Regions from separate parts of the Homo sapiens genome. Here region 2 is linked to region 1. A link means that fine-mapping ties the variant in region 1 to the expression of a gene that starts in the linked region. Tissue or cell type: nasal epithelium. Region 1 holds a variant in brackets; the other region holds the start of a gene. All regions are shown on one strand. Distances are from middle to middle. Region 1 overlaps MYT1 (myelin transcription factor 1). Region 2 holds the start of PCMTD2 (protein-L-isoaspartate (D-aspartate) O-methyltransferase domain containing 2).

Region 1 (5,369 bases):
GTCCTGGTGTACCAACCTCCTTGCTCTCTGCCACCTCCTGTGTGAGGCGGCATCGGGCACTGGCCCCTCCTGATCAGCCTCGTGGCAGCCATGGGTGACGGTGGCCTTGGGACAAACGAGGTTCCTTTCATGACTTCCCTGTCCGCACCTGGCTGCAGCGACAGTCAGATGATGTGTGTTCTGTGTTTTAAGTGAATCCCAAGGGCGTTCACTCTTCCCTCCCATGTGTCTGATGTGGTCAAGGGCTGTGAGGACATGGCCGCCTCGGGCCACTCAGCTCATCTTGTGTTGGGAGTTGAGCTGCAACCACACACACCTGCCAGGGCATGACAGGCTTTGTGCAGGGTGAAGAATGCCTGTCCACAGCACGGGGATGGGGCTTAGAGAGGTGAGACCTGGTGTGTATTGCCAAGGTAGAGGGTGCCCCTCAGACACGGTGTTCCCTTCTGCCCAGATGGGGCACTCAGAAGCAGGTGGTGGGAGGGGTGGATGTGGCTCCAGATTCCTGCAGCTGACCCTGGGGGTCCACAGAGCCATGAGGGGCATGCAGAGGGGACACCTGCTCCTCTGACTATGTGAGTACTTTCCTCTCTGGGACACAACTCTTGAGAAAAGCCATTGAATCGGGCCTTAGTGAGGACTGCAGGATGGCCCCCCCTGTGTGTTAGGTACTGCCGGCCCCTTGGGAGTTATACCCCCACCTGAGACTCACTCACAGATGCCATCGGGAAGTATCTCCTCTGCTGTTGATGCCACTCACAGTCCAATGCTGTGCTTATCCCCGTTGAGGCCTAGAGCTGCTGTGGGTCTGTCACTCTGGCCACCTGAGTGGCCACTTGCCCACCGCACTGAACCTGAGCTCTACCTGATGCTTTGCTGCCACTGAGACAAGGAGCTGGAGCCCCAAGTGGCCACTTGAACAGCTGCCAACCCAGGAAGGAGAGGCAGGCCATCTTCAGTTCTCTTGGCTGGCCAGCAAGGTATCCAATGTGTGGCCCACAGGGCAAGGATGAAGGAATGTGAGGCTCCCCAGGAGGGCACCCCAAAAAAACTCCTAGGGGCCGAAGAGAAGGTTGCAAGAGGTGGGGCCAGCCCTGCTGTGCCGCCACAGCCCTTTGGGTGCCAGGCTGTGCCCGGCTTCATCTTCCTCCAAGCGAGGAGATGTCCTGTCCCAGTGGCCGGATGTCACATGTGCTGGTGGAAGACTCCGGTGAGGAAGGGCCAGCAGCATGGAAAGTGAGACGTCCTCCCTGGGGTCTGAGCACCACTGCAAAGTGCCTTTGAGCAGCAGGTGATCTGGACACAAGCACTGAACTCTTGCCTGGCTCCTGCAGGGTCAGGGGTCAGGAGGGGTGAGGCACAGAGAGCAGGCCTGACGGGGGATGGATCTACCCGCAGAATCAGGTCACCTCCTCCCACTCTCTAACATCAGCAGGAACTCACATATTTTTTCCTCAGTGGACATTCGGAAGAAAATAACATCCGTGCTTGTAATATTAAAGTGGAATTTTGTACCACCTTATGTGATACATTCGTCAAATAGTTTTGGGTGTGTAAAGTTGGACTTTTGTGTTTCTCCTCCTTACTCTCTGCTGTAAGCCACTGGCTGTGTGAACTCTGCAGTCATGCTATACAACAGCCAGGCCTGGCATGGCCAGCGCCATCTGCTCTGCAGCAGGTGTGCAAAAAGGCCTCTGTTCATTTACCAGCCCATGGTGGCCACGCTTTGTGAGGGCAAGCTCCCAGCCCATCCAAGAAGATGAACTGGTCTTAGGCTGTGCTTCAAGTTATGGCTCAGATATGCTCTGAATGCCTTTAGTCCAGACCGGACCCTACAGAAGTCCAAGCTGGGAGCCCTTCGTGTCCTTGGCTGCAGTGGACCCTGTAGGCCTGTCCCAGTGCCCAGGTTTGGTGTCTGGGTGTAAACCGATGCTGGAGCAGCAGTTGGCTGCTCTCCTCTCAGACTTCCTGGTCTCCCTCGGGGAGACGGGGGAGCAAAGCACTGAACCCCTGAGATGATCGCATCAGACCCCTGTTGCTGGCAGTCGGCAGCCGGGGTGAACATCGGCGATGCTCCTCTGCGGACAAGGGAATGTGGGTGGGCGCACTCAAGGGCTGAGCCCAGAAGGCTTTCCTCTGGGGGTCCCAGGGCTCTGGGCCGGGGCTAAACGCCTTCACGGGCTCCCGTTCCAGTTCTGCTTCCCTCTGCAGGTGCCCCACGCCCGGCTGTGACGGCTCTGGCCACATCACAGGGAACTACGCTTCACACCGGAGGTGAGCCTGCCACACCCTCAGGTCCTGGGCCCCAGGGGTGGGCAGGGAGTCTCTTCCTTATATGAAGATTAGAAGACACTAATGTTGCTGACAGCTAGAGTCCATTCCCATCTCTTTAATCTGAATTGTTGCCATTTCCAGAACCTGATTAAGTTGTCCTCTGCAGTAAGATAAAAAGACAAGGGGTCAGGGCTAGGGGCTCGTGGTAATGCTTCTCCTTCCCGACCCTGCTGCCTCGTGTGAAGGCTGTGTCTGTGGATTCTGCTTCTTACAACTGACCCATCGGTTGCCCTCACTCCCTCCCACCCCACCCTGGGGTCACAGAGCTTGAGGGGAGAGGGTGAGATGAACGGGTGTGAGAAGCTGCGGTTCCAGCACTAAGGTGGCCTTTTTTCCTCTTTCGAAATCAGCTTGTCCGGCTGCCCTCGTGCAAAGAAAAGTGGAGTCAAGGTGGCACCCACCAAGGACGACAAGGAGGACCCCGAGCTGATGAAGTACGTTGGGCCATGCTGGCTCTTTCATTGCATTGCGGAATTGAGATTTTCGTGTGTTTTATAATGTAAAAAAACTCCTACTAGATTCCCTTTTCATTAATACAACGGGTCACCTAACTGACCAACGCCAACTTTCGTTTCTTTCATTTTTATGGAAGCTCTCATACGCTACACGTTGATACCTGTGAAGATAGGAGCCCTGGATGTCGCGTGGAGGGCATGGGTGCCAGATTTTCTGGGCTTTTCAGGTCTGGAGTATTTGACGGGGCTGGGAGAGGCAGAGCACCCTTCTACCTATGTCTTAGGGCCACCTGGGAGTGGGCCCCAGGGCCTTGCAACCTGCAGAATTTGTCTGGCAGGAAAGGTGAGATGCAGGAGTCAAGGAGGAGAAGGTGGTTAGAACA[A/G]TGTTGAAGCTCCAAATCCCATGTGTCCATCCACCCACACACCTGTGCAGAGAGCTGGTAGATTGAGAGAGCCAGGAGGATCTAAACTGGGAGCCAGACACTGTTGGGTGAAGGAAAGAGGACATCTTGGGCCTTAAGTGACCCAAGTCCTTGAGGAGAAAAGATTCTCCTCTATTGCTCTTCTCACTGGGGCAGGGTGGGGGCTCGTGTGTCTTTGTGGGGCTTATAGGTGAACCCTGACTCTGTGTGTTATCCTACTTGGTGGGGGTTTGTGTCCTTACAAGCTTATTCTCCCAATAGGGAACGGGTCCCCTGCACTGCCCACTTTTAGGTGGGGGGAATGCTTTGCTACAGACTCAGACCAGGTGACCCACTGGCCATTTTGCCCAGGACCGAGGTACTTTCAGAGCTGACATCTGGCAAAATGGGCAGTGGGTTCCCCAGCAGGTGAGCAGAGTGGAAATGATGGCTCTGGACACCTTGTTGCCCAGGGTTAGGGGCCGGCTCGGTCGGGACGGGGCCCTACTATGCCCGCAGGAAGCAGGTTGCCCTCGTTGTGTTACCTGCTGGGCCAAGAGCAGCCAGACCTCACGCCCGGGGAGGGGCAACTTGGCCTGAGATTGGGTTGCTCCTCCTGGTAGTTTGCTCCAGCTGTGCCCAAACACCCGGCCACACTGGAGGAGCCTAATTGACCAACATCACATCCTTCAGACGGGGATGGGCCCACCAGCTGTTTGGTGTAATAGGCTGTGGCTTGTTTATTTATTTAATTTTTACAATAAAACTGTAATGAATGCTAAATTAACAATGCAAAATTTTGGTTGTTAGTACTATGAAGGTCGCACACTAAATGCTGAGGTGGATAAAAAGCATTTTGCCCCTGAGAATCCAGGAATTTGCCTATGATCATATAAGTGCAACACCTTTATGGATTTGGCAAGGATCCTGCTGGCAGGGATATTATAAGTGAATCGTGCTGCATTTGCAAATGATTAAAATCAAGATCAGCATTTTTCAAATTAACCAGGAAAAATGGTTTTCCTTTCTAATGTGCTGTCAACTGAGCTTTAAAAAAAAACAAGAGTTCTGCAGCCGAGTGGAGACTGTGACTTTCAGAAACACTTCAGCATTTGCAGGATAGAGGAAGGTCCTAGAGGCTCCATGGCAGAGGGAACCTGACTACTGAACCCTCCGTTTTACAGGGTTCCTTCCCAGCCATAAACTTTAACTGCACTTGTAATTGCCTAGCATATTTAAACAGATGCATATCAAAGCAGAAACTGGAATGGATGTGTCAGGTCATGCTGAGGGATGGGATTTCGTCAGCATGCATGAGCTGTGATTTGGGGAGCCTGGTGGAACAGGAGTCCTTTTTATGATATCTCCTGCCTGCGCTATTTAAAATTAAGTCACATCAGGCGCTTGGTGGTAAATCCCTTTGCCACAGCTTTATAACTGGTCATAAAAGTCTTGCGGAGGTTCCAGCATGGGAGTCAAGAGGTGAATGCTCCCCTTGCCCTGCCCACTGTCCCTGGAGGGGACTTCTGGTCCTGGCCATGTTTCTCATGTCACTGGCACACACGGCTTCTGCCCCCCAACACGTGATAGGAAACACTAGCTCACCCAAGAAGCACAGAGGCCTCACCAGCTCAGTGCCTGCCCCCACCGCCCCAGCACCTCTCAACATGATGTCCCTGACAGCTTGAAAGTCTCCACACCAGGTTTTGTGAGAAAGAGAACATACCTGAAATCTGAAATCCTCTCCATGTATGCGATTCAAGGGAACAAAAACAGTTTCCCTTGATGAAGGGGAGTAGTGTTTTGCAAGAAAGGGAGTGAAAATAACTCAGATTTGGGCCGGGCACTGTGGCTCATGCCTGTAATCCCAGCACTTTAGGAGGCTGAGGCGGGTGGATCACCTGAGGTCAGGAGTTCGAGACCAGCCCGGCCAACATGGTGAAACCTCATCTCTACTAAAAATACAAAAATCAGCCGGGCGTGGTGGCGGGCGCCTGTAATCCCAGCTACTCGGGAGGCTGAGGCAGGAGAATCGCTTGAAGCCGGGAGGCGGAGGTTGCAGTGAGCCAAGATTGTGCCACTGCACTCCGGCCTGGGCAACAAGAGCGAGACTCCATCTCAAAAATACTACTACTACTACTAATAATAATTCAGATTCGACTGTGTAGAGTAGCTGAAG
Region 2 (5,369 bases), 27 kb after region 1:
TTCAAATGATAAATGTTTTGTATACTTTACCATAGTAAGAATAGTGTATTTCGAAGACAACAACACAACCTCCCACATGTGGCTCTAGCTACTTGCTCCCCAGATACCCAGCCGCACCCCTGCCTCAGGCCCTTGCATGACCTTCCCTCCGTCCGAGGCTCCTCCTGCAGATACAACACAGATGAGTGGAGAGATGCAAGGGGATAGGCGAGGGGACACTGAAGACATACTCAGAAAGCTCCCCGTGGCTGGGTGTGGGAGAAGCCTGGAGGAGGGTGACAGCAGCAGTTGGATTCCCATCCACCTTCCTGTGCTTACTACTAGCTGGTAAGTACAAGAAGCCAGCGAACCTCTTGCAGTTTCAGTTCCCTCATCTGTAAAATGGAGGTATCAGTGTCGTCAAGCCAAAGGCTGCCAGGAACCTGCCTGTAATTGAATGAGTTGGGATTATCACTCATTGCAGCGAGAGGGATGCAGATCATGGAGAACTGCAAGGCATCTCAGTAAGAGGTGTCGGGAAAAGTTACTAAAGGTTATGGGCTTGAGTTGGGTGATTTTTTTCATGGATTAGATGCTGTCAGGAATTGGGGGAGTGGATGGGGGGAAAGGGTGGTTCTCTGGGCATCTCAGTAGATGTTATCTGTGAGGAGGCCAGGGCAGAGGGAGGCTCAGCTGTAGCTGGTAGAGGAGCGGGGGTCATTGTTACTAACTTGGAGATGATATGTCTTAGATTTTGTGGGTGGCACAGTTACCCTGTTTTTGTTTGTGCTTAGACAAAATTATGACGTGGCCTTGGATCATGATGGTGCTCCTCTACAAAATTATTTATGTCCAACAGGAGACCCCATGGCCTCGATCTGAGTGCCAGGCCAGCTCCTGATGTCACGGTCCACTTTTCTTCTTGGAGGTCATACTAGTACCTATTTCATGGAAATAACCCATGTAGAGTGCTCAGTATATACCCTGTGAAGGGTTATGAATGCTGATGGTAGTGGAAGCTGATGTGGAGGGGAATGGTGGAGACACCTTGGAAAACCAAGCAAGAGTCTGAAGTTGTGGCAGGCCGGGTCTCACTAACGCAGGCCTCCATTACAGCTGTCCCAGCACGGACTGAGTAGCCAGGTTAAACATTAAAAGCTGATTGAGCCAATGCCCTTATACAAAGGTTGGAATGTAACAAAGAGCCCACCAAGAGTTTTGCCTAGGCTCTTCCTGGGCCTTGAAGCATGACAAGATAACGAAGGAACTCTTAACAGGACCCTTTTTAGGATTAAACAAGTTGTATTAGGGATCTGAAGAAACTCCCCAGGCCTCCACAAACAAGTTTATGGGGGTCTAAAGGAATTCCCCATATCATTATGATTTAGCAGGAGACAAGATAAGGGTAATCACCCCAGCACCTAGACCCATTTAGATTAAGTAAACTTACTGAGGCTCCAGAAGAGGGTCTTCAGGACTCAACCTTAGTCATAGATTAAAAGAAGTTAATCACTTATGTCTGTAGATGAATGCACACTTACATGTAGACATACAGCTTAGAAGGTATACGAGCTTTGGAAAACTTTGTAATTTTGAGTTGGTATGGTGATAATTTCCAGGCCTTCTCCTTGTAACCGGTTACAGAAATAAAACCTCTCTTACTCTCCAGCTCATTTGCATCTTGTTATTGGGCCAGGAGAAGTAGTAGCCCGACCCTCAGTTGGGTCCAGGAACAAAGGGAGTGTCTGAAGACAGCAGTGATGTGATCACCTGTTTTAGGAGGACCACTCGCCAGAGCCCAGGGGAATGGTGGGAGGGGTGGGGAGAGGTGAGGGGAGCTGGGACAGGGCAAGGAGGGATGTATGGAGGACGTGTCCCCTGGCAGTAGGAAGAGAGTCAAGGATGACTCCAGGGCTTCTGTAATTTGAAACAGTCACAAATAACCACAAGCTCTCAGGTGGAAGGACACTGAGAGCCCCATGAAGGTCATGAGGTGGTGGGCCACCTCAGGTCCGTGGATCCAGGACCATGGATCAACAAGAGAAGTGAGGTCTCCCTGGGACCACATAACGTGGTGAAGGCACCGGCCTTTGGTTTTCAAACTCTGCTCCTAAGTGGAGCTCCAGGGTCTGGGGAGGAATGCCGAGTTAGGAGGGAGGCGGGAACCGGAGACCCAGGCCCACTCGTCCGCCCCAGCGACGCTGGCACTTGCACATATGAGGCGGCTTGCATGGCTGTGCTTGAAGAAAGGGTTCTGCAGCTACAGCCTATCTGCAAAGCCCCACGCGAAGTTTGGGCAATGGGCTGTGTGAACCCAGAAAATGGGAGACAGGTCTCAGTTAATTTACAAAGTTTATTTTGCCAAGGGTGAGGACGCGCCCGTGACACAGCCTCAGGAAGTCCTGACATGTGCCCAAGGTGGTCGGGGCACAGCTTGGTTTTATACATTTAGGGAGACAGGATACATCCATCGATACATGTAAGAAGCACATCGGTTCGGTCTGGAAAGACGGGACAACTTGAAGCAAAGGCAGGAAGACTCCAAGCGGGGAGGGAGCGTCCAGGCCACAGATAGGTGAGACACCAACGGTTAAATTCTTTTGAGTTTCTCATTTGCCTTTTCAAAGGAGGCAAATCAGATATGTATCTATCTAAGTGAGCAGAGGAGTGACTTTGAATGGAATGGGAAGCAGGCCTGCCCTAAGCAGTTTCCTGCTGGAGTTTTCCTTAGTGATCTTGGGGGCCCAGGATATCTTCCTTTCACAGCTGATTTCACAAAGCCGGCTGGGTAGGAGGGCCCCAGGGCCGGGTGGCCGTCCGCGTGGCAGGGCGGGGGTCCCAGGGCGGCTGTGCTTGGTGCTGGGAGGCCGCCCGAGGGCAGCGCCGGCCCCGAGTCAGCAGCCGCAGGGCACCCTGGAGATGCGGAACGCCCCCAGCCGTGGGTCAGCAAAGGCGTCTCAGGTGACCCTTAGGGAGGGCTTCTGAGGCAGCCCGTGCGGGGTCCGTCCTGGCTGAGCACTGCGCGGACGGCGCGCCCGCGAGACTCGGACCCGGCCTAGGGCTCAGCGAGCTCTCAGCGGGGCGGGCGGACGCAGGCAGCCCAGGGGAGTGGGGCCCGCCCTGCGCCGCCATCACCCCTTTAAGTGCCAGGCCCGCGGCGCATGCGCAGTCAGGCCGTTGTGCGCAGGCGCAGAGGCGGCGGCGGCGGCGGCGGCGGCGGATGTTTACGGCGGCCGAGGTTGGAGCGGCGCTGCTCGGCCGCGGACACACGAGGGACGCGCCCGAGGAGCTGCAGGTGGCAGCCCAGGCGGTCCGAACCCGTCGGCCGGCCGAGCCTGGAGGTAGAGCCGCCGCCGCCGCCGCCGCCCCTCGGTCCGGCCTGCGGCGAGCGGGTGGTGTGTCCCCTCGGCCCCTTCCCTCCTCCTTCCCCACCCCCGGCACCCCTGCGCCCGGAGCTCTCCTCTGGGGGCGTCGCTCCTCCCCACCTCGGGCACCCTCACCTCCCCCCAGCGGCCTCCAGGGCGTCCCGCGTTTCTCTCTCCGAGCGCTCGCGGTTTCCCGTCGGTCTCTCCCGGTGCCCGTTGCTCACTCACACTCTTGGGTCTGGTTAGTCCAGACCTGCAGCTTGTCTTTGACTTCCCAAGTGGGAAACGTTTGCAGTTCCAAGGCAAGCCAAGAGCTAAGGTTTAGAACAAAGTCTGCCTTGGACCCTTTCAGAAGATGACAGGATTTTTTAAAAAAATAATTGCGCCCCCCCGCCCCGTGCCTTGGAGATAGTAAGAATTGGAGCAGAGCACTGGGACTTCAATTCACGCATGGAAAGAGATCTTTGTTAGTTGGAGGAAGGAGAACTTGCCTGAGCTTCGGGCCTTTGTTTTGTTTTTGTGAGAGGGACGTGTCTCCTAAATGAATGTTTGCTCCAGCGTTGCACCTCAAATAAGTCACCTAAATATCCACGCCCTCTTTATCCACCCCCTCTTTACTCGTGTGACTAGAATAGTTTTCATTTTTCTTCTCAAGGGAATGGCTAAACAGCTCCTATCTGGGCGTTTGATAGACTGTCATTCAAGAATGAGTGAAGTTGAGGTGCCTATAAGCAACTCAGAAATTGTTGTGGCCACGCTTGGGGGAAATAGAGCCCTACACTCAGGTGATGAGAGGAGACCTCAGAGGTGACCGATCCAGGGCCTTGCTCCCTGCGCCACCCCAGCTCGTACCTCCAGTGGAACTTGGCTGGGCTTATCAAGAGCTCCTTTCATTCATTGCAACTTCATTTGTTAGAAAGCTTCTCTGTGTATTTAGTAGGCATTGTCTCCAACATGTACCACTGGTCTGGCTTTTGTTAGGCCCATTAATAGTGTACATGTGACAGCCTTTCAAGTATAGGTGCTCCCCGGCTTACGGTGGGGTCGCATCCCAGTAAACACATCGTTAAACCTGAAGTCGAACCATCCGAAGTCGGAGACCATCTGTATTTGAAAAAAGTCCCTTTGCATTGCTTGTAAGAGTTCTGGTTTTCAAGGTGAGAAATCTGTTTGTGTGTTTGTTTGATCATTCTGCCCAAAGGAGATGTGGCTTTGGGTCCTTTTCCCCACTCATCTTCCACAATGAATTACTTTGTCCATATTACCCTAAAGAAGTGACATCCAAGTTGGAATGTGATCTTCCGTATGTCGCCTCCCAAAACCCCACTACCATAGCTTCATGCTTGTGTTGACACAGCCACAATCACAACTCAGGTGTCAGTTCTGAGACCTTCCCATGCCTGTCGCCACTCAGCAAGTGTTCTTCATGTGCCCTGGCAGTTCGCATTGTAAGGAGCAGCCAGGTTGTTATGGACTGTTGCTAGTTACCACAGAGTAGTGAATTATATTAAGGATTAATTACAGCAGACAATGTGCACAGTATCATCGAGTGCAGCGTTCTAAAAATGATTCTACACTTTTACTTTGAAAAATTGGATTTGACCAGATTGTAGAATCTGGGTGAAAATGATAGGATTTGGTTTGGCGAAGAGCTTTGTTGTCGGTGTTTTTGGTGACATCATGACTGATCATATCGATGGTTTTCAGTGCGAGGGAGTGTTAGATTACCAGACAAAGATGGTAATAAATATCAGACCCCACAGCTATTCACATGGATCCTACCAGTGGCAATAGGTATAGATAGGGTTACCCCATCGTCAAAAGGTTACCGGTGTGTTGTGTGGTAAAGAACGTTGCTGTCTTGAGTATTTTTAAAAGCTGCACTGGTGTGGTATTAAAAACACAGGCCTTTTGCCATACAGTCCTGGGTTTGAATGCAGCCCCCTCCTCACAAACTGGCTATGTGATCATGAACAAATTAACCGGCCAGCTCCAATTTGCTTCTTAATGTTGTGAAGTGTAAAT

The links.
Region 2: it holds the start of PCMTD2, and the variant in region 1 is fine-mapped to the expression of PCMTD2 in nasal epithelium (TOPMed, PIP 0.96).

What each region holds. Positions count from the first base shown.
Region 1 is chr20:64,225,204-64,230,572 of GRCh38, forward strand. MYT1 (myelin transcription factor 1) reads left to right here. Exons shown (of 23, transcript NM_004535.3): 17 at 2,212-2,274; 18 at 2,685-2,768. Among named protein-coding and RNA genes, the nearest start is that of PCMTD2, 28 kb to the right of the region's middle. RefSeq lists an enhancer at 1,137-1,636. The variant A/G (reference allele first, on the strand shown) is at 3,173.
Region 2 is chr20:64,252,551-64,257,919 of GRCh38, forward strand. It overlaps PCMTD2 (protein-L-isoaspartate (D-aspartate) O-methyltransferase domain containing 2), which reads left to right and starts at 3,198. Exons shown (of 6, transcript NM_018257.3): 1 at 3,198-3,320.